Linked DNA regions of Homo sapiens: region 1 is linked to region 2. Evidence: fine-mapped expression QTL. A gene starts in region 2. The other region holds a variant in brackets. All regions are shown on one strand. Distances are from middle to middle. Region 1 overlaps ACVR1B (activin A receptor type 1B). Region 2 holds the start of ACVR1B (activin A receptor type 1B).

Region 1 (4,270 bases), 38 kb before region 2:
TCTGATCACATACAACCTTTCGCATTTCCTCAATGGAAGGGTCAGAGGGCACTAAGTCGTAATATGGCAGCTGATATTCTTCATGGACTCCTGGGAGAAAAGAAAGTATCTACCTGAGTTATCAACAGCAGGAAAAGATTACTCAGAAGCCGGTGACAAAACCTACACTGTGCTCTGTAAATACCACTACCCCCTAAGGTTCCTTAGAAAGTTAGTTAATTCTAAGTATGGAACAAGAAATACACAAAAGGGGCCGGGCATGGTGGCTCATGCCTGTAATCCCAGCACTTTGGGAGGCCAAGGCAAGCGGATCACCTGAGATCAGTAGTTTGAAACCAGCCCCGCCAACACGGTAAAACCCCATCTCTACTAAAAATACAAAAATTAACCAGGCATGGTGGCAAACACCTGTAGTCCCAGCTACTAGGGAGGCTGAGGCAGGAGAATAGCTTGAACCCTGGAGGCAGAGGTTGCAGTGAGCAGAGATCATGCCACTGCACTCCAGCCTGGACAAGAGTGCAAGACTCTGTCTCAAACAAAACAACTAAACAAAAAGAAATACAAAAGAGTAGCCAGGAACATTTTTTTTCATAGCCAAAGCAAGGAATCTATCAAAGACTACTGGGGGTCACATCAAAAGGCACCAACTTGATAAGCTCCCAACTGAGCAAAGATGGGAACTTTTAAGTAACAATAAGACAAATAACTTCAATGGAAACAAATATTTTTAAAGTCTAAAAAAGGAAATTTCAGTCACCTACCTCTGTGGGAGGCTACAGAACCACCTCATTATTTTGAAAAATGGTAAATAAGTGGAAAGAATCAAGTATTTTTTCTGCCTCTCCTATTCCAACTATATATCATGGGAACCAAATACATATGTAGGGGAAGTAATCATTCGCTTAGTTTTGGACAATATCACCACGGCACGTTAACGACACAAAAATAGAGAACCAATGCTACGCAACTTGTCACAGAAGGACAGAGGAACCCCTGTGAAGGATACGTGTCCCCGAACCCCCAGAAATGATTCTAGCTGCCAGATCTAACTACCAATTCATAGGAAATACCAGGAAGAGTAGAATATGTGAACTCTACCTAAGCAATCTGCAAAATCTAGCCTGGGAAATTCTACAGGACAAATGACCTGGATTCTCCGAAAAAACAGAGTGGGAAGAAAAAATGAGGGGGAACATGTAGACAAGAAATGTAGGAGGTGTATTCATCAACTGCAGGGGATAAAACTTATTGGAACCCCGATTTGAACAAACTGCTTTAAAAATTTAGGAGACTGGGGAAATCTCAACACTGACTAGATGTTAAGTGACATTAATGTTTGCCAGGCACAATGGCTCACACCTCTAATTCTAGCACTTTGGGAGGCCGAGGTGGAAGGATTGCTTGAACACAGGAGTTCAAGACCAGCCTGGGCAACATGGCAAAACCCTTGTCTCCACAAAAAATACAAAAATTAGTAGGGCATGGTGGTGCACCTGTAGTCCCAAGCTACTCAGGAGGCTGGAGTGAAAGGTTCCCCTGAGCCTGGAGAGGTGGAGGCTACAGTGAGCTGTGATCACGCCACTGCACTCCAGCCTGGGTGACAGTGAGACTCTGTCTCAAAAAAAAAAAAAAAAAAAAAAGCACTAAATTTGTGTGTGTGTGTGTGAGTTTCACTCTTGCCACCCAGGCTGGAGTGCAATGGCGCAATCTCAGCTTAATGCAACTTCCACCTGCCGGGTACAAGCGATTCTTCTGCCTCAGCCTCCGAGTAGCTGGGATTACAGGTGCCTGCCACCATGCCCGGCTAATTTTTGTATTTTTAGTAGATTCGGGGTTTCACCATGTTGGCCAAGCTGGTCTTGAACTCCTGACCTCGGGTGATCTGCCCGCCTCAGCCTCCCAAAGTGCTGGGATTACAGGTGCGAGCCACCGCACCTGACCCCTAATGTTCATTTTTTTTTCCTTTTTTGAGACGGAGTCTCCACTGTTGCCCAGGCTGGAGTGCAGTGGCACGATCTCGGCTTGCTGCAACTTCCACTTCCTTGGTTCACGTGATTCTCCTTCCTCAGCCTCCCAAGTAGCTGGGACTACAGGC[G/A]TACGCTACCATACCTGGCAATTTTTTTGTATTTTTAGTACAGACGGGGTTTCACTATGTTGGCCAGACTGGTTGCAAACTCCTGACCTTGTGATCAGCCCACCTCGGCCTCCAAAAGTGCTGAGATTACAGGCATGAGCCACCGCGCCCGGCCTAATGTTCATTTTTTAAAGTGTGGTAATAGCACTGCATTTTTTTAAGTCCTCATCTTTAAGAACTACAAACTTAGAAAGATTTTCCATAATAAAAAGATAGTTTTAAAAAGCCAATTTAGGCCAGGCACAGTGGCTCACGCTTATAATCCTAGCACTTTGGGAGGCTAAGGCAGGTGGACCACCTGAGGTCAGGAGTTCGAGACCAGCCTGGCCAACACAATGAAGCCCCATCACTACTAAAAACAGAAAAATCAGCCCGCAGTGGTGGTGGGCACCTGTAATCCCAGCTACTCGGGAGGCTGAGGCAGGAGACTGGCTTGAACCCAGGAGGCGGAGGTTGCAGTGAGCTAAGATTGTGCCATGGCAATACAGCCTGGGTGACAAAGAGAAACCCTCTCTCAAAAAAATAAAAATAAAAAGCCAATTAATTTTTCTCAAGCCCTTTTCCAGAAAAAGAAAAACAAAACAAAACAAAAAAACCCTGCTGTCTTGAGCTAATGAGACAATTTTTTTTCTTTTAAGTAGAGATGGAGTCTCTCCTACCTCAACCTCCTGAGTAGCTGAGATTACAGGCGCCCGCCACTACACCCGGCTAATTTTTGTATTTTTAATAGAGATAGGGCTTCACATTGGCCAGGCTGGTCTCGAACTCCCAGGTGATCCGCCCACCTTGGCCTCCCAAAGTGCTGGGATTACAGGCGTGAGCCACCATGCCTGGCCTTTATGTCTGGCTAATTTTTTTATTTTTGTAAAGATAGAGTTTCACCATGTAGCCCAAGCTGGTCTCAAACTCCTGGCCTCAGGTAATCAGCCCACCCTGGCCTCTCAAAGTGCTGGGATTACAGGTGTGACACAGTGCCCAGCCTGGGAAATATTTTTAAATAGAGAATTGGACTTGGTAATTATCTAAGGGGTAGTTACAGGCTTAAGCCCTGGCCTCAGCCTGTCCGAGTCTGAACCCTTGTTTACTAAAATAGTTATGTGACCTTAGACAAATTTCCTAACTTCTCTGTGACTCATTTTCTTCATTTGTAAAATGGCGATGATAATAGCACCTACTTATTATTTACTTGTAGTAGTAAAGATTAAATGAGCTTATACATAGCAAGTGGTGAATAAATGTTAGCATTATTATATATTTAGCCTCAATTTCTGGATGTCATAAGAAGAAATAAACTTATTCACAGTTTAAGACCTGTGTGACCAGATTTTTCTTAGTTTGTTTGTTTTTTCTTTGAGATGGAGTCTCGCTCTGTCGCAAGGCTGCAATGCAGTGGCTCGATCTTGGCTCACTGCAAACTCCGCCTCCAGGGTTCAAGCGTTCTCCTGCCTCAGCCTCCCAAGTAGCTGGGACTACAGGCGTGCACCACCATGCCCTGCTAATTTTTGTATTTTTAGTAGAGACAGGGTTTCACCATGTTGGCCAGGATGGTCTCGATCTCTTGACCTCGTGATCCGCCTGCCTTGGCCTCCCAAAGTGCTGGGGATTACAAGCGTGAGCCACTGCGCCTGGCCTCTTAGTCTGTTTTACTGCATATACTGATCAAAATTTAAGAGGTACAATTCCATGAATACTACCTGGGCACTATTTCCATAATTTGGATTTTACCAAACATGTCATAAATGGAAGCTGGAAAAGGGTATTAATATACAAAACAGTTCTGCTGGAAGACTTGTCATATTTTTTGTAGATTAGATTTTTTTAATTTTTAATTTTTGTGGGAACACAGTAGATGTATATACTTATGGGGTACATGAGATGTTTTGATACAGGCATGCAATGCATAATAATCACATCAGGGAAAATGGGATATCCATCCCTTCAAGCATTTACACTGTGTTACAAACAATCTAATTATATTCTTTCAGTTATTTTAAAATGTACAATTATATTATTGACTATAGTCACCCTGTGGTGCTATCAAATACTAGGTCTTTAAAAAATATGGAACGCTTCAGGAATTTGCATGTCATCCTTGTGCAGGGGCCATGCTAACCTTCTCTGTATTGTTCCAATTTT
Region 2 (4,270 bases):
GAGAATGTCAAATATCTCTCTTGTTGCTTTTGTCTTGAGAAATGAATGTCATGTTCTCCTGCTACTAACTCAATTTTACATTTTTAAATGTGAAAATTCCAAAGCCAGGCCTTAAAACATGTACACCTATCAAACGGATGCTATTTCTAACTGAAACTCATTCTCCTTATCACTGGCCTTTTACTAAGTCCTAGTTAATTCATTAATTAATAGAAACACCTATCCCTTACTGCCCCTCACATCAAGTCCAAGTATCAGGCATCAGAGCTGTCTGGCTCTGTCACTCCTCCAGCCCACGTAGGGGAGCACTATATAGGAAATGCAGGGGAGGGGAAAAAAATCAACTTCTTGTTATCCCACAGCCTCTATTTTCCCAGAACTGACGTTTTACTTTAAGCCCTTTGCAGCAGTGGTCTCCATAGCATACACTATTGGCAACTAGACGTGTCCTGGAAAAAACTGTAGTGTCTGGCCAAGAAGTTTAAAGGCCCTGGAGAATGTTTGCTGGACACACAACCTAATTTCCAATTTACCAAAAAAAGAAACGAACTCCCTATTTTACTCACCCACCTTAACCCCCACAAACATCCATTTTAGGAAGGTTACAAAAAAATGAACTCTGCCCCATTCAGAACCACTTGGATTATCAAACATTCTTAACTAGGCTCACAACCAGAAAAACCCCACAAACACTACATCAAATCAGCAGGGAAATGACTGTTAAAAATCCTGGATATATTAGGGGCAGGATAAAAATTCCTATATGAGGATTTAAAGATTTATACATACACACATAAAATGACAAACCTAGAGGTTCAATCTCCCTTTTTTTTTTTTTTTACTACCCAGTAGAGAACATTATGTTACACATTCCAAAAACATGGCCCTTAATAAGGCCCGACGAACATCCTTATTCATGCAAATCATTATCTCACCACAAATGTCAAGCTCTGTTCATACACCTTCACCATGTTTCTCAAACCCCACAGCACAGATACCTAAGCCACAGAGCAGTGAGGCCGAAGAACACACACGAGGTGCTTAGGAGAAGCATTAGCCCGTGAACAAAGACCCCGCTGCACAGGCTCCACCACTGGGAACAAATATCAAAGCCGGAGATAATGAACTTGTTTTTGAGATTCCAAAGTGGCATGGTGTCTTTTCTTGACTGTCTGGTTTATTAAAGACGACTGAACCCACCTGAGAATCATTATTTTTAGTGTAAGAGAAGAGAGCCACAGAACACACTTTATCTCCCATTGCTGGAAGGTTAGGGGCTGCTGAGAAGTCAAAGCATCAGGCTTTGTACGTCAGGAGCGAATACAATCCTGATCATCTCTCCCAGATCCATCTGTGGGTCAATAATCGCTTCAATATAACTGCCAAATATAACCTTCATCTGCTACCCCAAGGCCAAAACACATTCGCCAAGACTCTCTTAAATGAAATATTTTAGGGTTTCATCTGCTCTTCTCAGCCCCCAAAGCCTCAAAAACAACACAGCCAGCGAAGTGTCCCGCAAAAAGGTACCCGCTTCTACAGAGAGGAGAGTGGGGGGGTGGTATAAGGCGAGCCGCAGACTGTGGGGATTGGGAGGTAAGGGGTGTGTGAGGGTGGGCGGGCTGGGAAGAGGCATCGTGTAGGAAGGTAAATAAGTACTGACCAAGGGCCGGGAATACAGTCCAGTGGTGGGATCTTTAAATAATCTTGGGGGTTTGGAGACAGGTTCCAGGATTTCACCTGAAAGGCATCCACAAAGTGATTAACTGAATGGGCCCCCCGGGGTAGGGTGGGGGAGGCGAGGAGGAAAGCAAATACACCTAGATTCACATCAACCCTTGGGGAACTCGGTTCCATAGGGTTAGGGATTCCAAAGCCAGGCTCCAAAAAGGTTTAGGGGCCTGTTCGTCCCACTTCCTCCAAATAGCCTCCACGGGGCATGAGTGCCGGAGGGCGGAGGGGGGATTGCCCCACTGAACTCAAGGGATTGAGTGAAGGGGAAATGTGACTCCCTTTCCCAGAACATTAGGGAGGCAGTGGAGGGAGGGGAAGAAACACGCCAAGTGCAGGACCTGAAGGAAAGGTTAGAGACCCCTTCCCCTACAGTCTGAGGTGCGCGGACTCTCAACATCAGGTTCCCTCGGAGAGGCTAAGACCCCACCGCCCGAACCCCACAGTCTTGGCGGGAGAAAGACGCCCCCCAGGAGCACCTGGAGGGAGGGAAGAAAGCCCCCCGCCCCTGGACACGGTGAAGGGCAGAAACCACGGACCTCCAAATCTTGGAGCTGGAGGCTCAGACTCCCCTCTCTGGAACACGAGGGCGCTGGGAGCGCGACCCCTGAGAACTGCCCGAATCCAGTTCCGCCTGGAACAGGGCTCGGGTCCCCAGGGGCCCGGCGTGAGCTCCGTCGCCGCCGGGCGGCTGCGCCTCGGAGATCGGGGAAGCTGACTGGGGGTCACCCCGACTCCTCTGCGCCCCCCACCCGGCCATATTGTGCTCGTGGGGAGGGGGCGCGCTGTAGTCCAGCGGCCGCGGCTCGAGGCCTCGCCCTTGCCGGGCCCTCTCCATCCCGGCCCCCGCCCCCCGTCCCAGGACTCACCCTGGACCCCCCGGGGCCCGGACCCGCCGCTGCCGGCGAGCAGGAGGACAACAAGGGGGAAGAAGGAGGAGGCTCCGGCCGACTCCGCCATAGTAACCACCGCCGCCGCCGCCGCCGCCGCAGCCCAGCAGCGCCCAGCGCGCGCGCGCGCGCCCCCGGCGCCTCCCCTCCTCCCGCGGCCCGGCTCCCGCCTCCCTCTCCTCCGCCCGGCGCCTGCACGTGCGCTCCCGGCGGAGCCGGCGCCGCGGCCGCCGCGCGCGCCCCCGAAGGGCGGGGCCGGGGCGCGCGCGGGCGCCCGCCTTAAAGGGGAGTGTCCCTGTTAAAGGGGTGGGCGGGGCTCACGCCTCGGCCAACTTCGCGGATCGGTGCCGAGCCCGGCGCGGAGGAGGCCGGAGCCGAACGTGCAGTCTCCTCCCTCTCCTGCACCCCACGCAGTGCAGAATTATCTTATCAGAGTCGATCCCCCGCCCCCGTCGAATATTCTACGAATCCCGTGCGTGTTCCAGTTCCTCCATCCCTGCGCCTAGCCTCAAGCCCCCAGCGCGTCCCCTGGGATCATCGCCGCGGTCTCCTAACTGGTTTCCCTGCCTCGCCTCGCCCCCTGCCATCCTCTGGACGCGGCAGCCTGTGTGATGGAATCGCGGCACGCGCCTTTTCAGAACATAGCAAAGCTCTTTATTGATGACAGTATGGGTGAGGGTGCCGTGTGAGGCACTCTGATTGGGCTGGTAGGTAGAACCCTTTTGGTAAACAATTGGCATTATGCATCAAATGCCTTAAAATCTTCATATCCATTTACCCAGTATTGTCCCCTGTCCTCAAGAAATAATAAGAGGACAGATGTTTATGAAAAATGTTAACTGTATATTTATCATTGTAAAAAAGGTAGAAACTAAGTAGACAATAATAGAAAATGTTAAATTATGGCCCATCCATATGATGGAACATTATTTAGTAATTTAAAATCCTGTTTACAAAAACTATTGACATGAGAAAATGCTTACAAGATAATGTTAAATTAAAAAAGCAAAATGCAACACTGTTTACAGTATTATTCAAATTGTACTGATAATATGTGTTTATAGGAAAAAAAGACTGGAAGGATATTTACCCAATAGTAACAGTAGTTATTGCCATAATTTTTTTACTTTTAACATTTCAATAATTTCTAAATATTTTTCAAATAAATGTTACTTTCAAATCTAGAAGAAATGCTTAAGAAAGTAAACAAATCACTCCGTATCTTTCTGAAAAGAGGTCAGTTTCTTTAGCTTGAGAAAGAACTTGATATAAAGGAAAGGGCAGAATTTTTGCAGCCAGAGAATTCTGGATCTGAATTCTGCTTCCTACTAACTAGCTGTGAAAACTTGGGCAAGGTTTGAACCTCTCTAAGCACAGCTTCACCATCTGAGATCTAGGGGTGGAAAGGATGGCCAAGAGATAGGGAGAACAGTTGCTTAAATGGAATTCTCACCTTCTAAGTTTCACCAACCTGAAGAACTCCCATCGTCATATCCGGAAAAAATAAAGCTGAAGACACACTCGCCAGACACAGTGTACACACAATCACATAAAGTCATGGGGAGGCATTGTCTACAAGTTGGTCAGTGTAGCTGGATGAGTAAATAACTTATTCTCCTCTCCCTCATCTCCCCCAAATAGGCACACCC

What was found. PIP is the estimated chance that this variant, and not a neighbour inherited with it, causes the effect. A credible set is the group of variants that fine-mapping cannot tell apart.
Region 1: its variant is the best candidate, but not a certain one, in a credible set for the expression of ACVR1B in monocytes (TOPMed, PIP 0.71).

What each region holds. Positions count from the first base shown.
Region 1 is chr12:51,987,683-51,991,952 of GRCh38, reverse strand. It overlaps ACVR1B (activin A receptor type 1B), which reads right to left. Exons shown (of 9, transcript NM_004302.5): 8 at 1-90. It also overlaps the pseudogene RNU6-574P. Among named protein-coding and RNA genes, the nearest start is that of TAMALIN, 17 kb to the left of the region's middle. The variant G/A (reference allele first, on the strand shown) is at 2,096.
Region 2 is chr12:51,950,165-51,954,434 of GRCh38, reverse strand. ACVR1B (activin A receptor type 1B) reads right to left here and starts at 2,736. Exons shown (of 9, transcript NM_004302.5): 1 at 2,601-2,736. The coding sequence starts at 2,691. RefSeq lists silencers at 2,742-2,791, 2,822-2,881 and an enhancer at 2,339-2,958.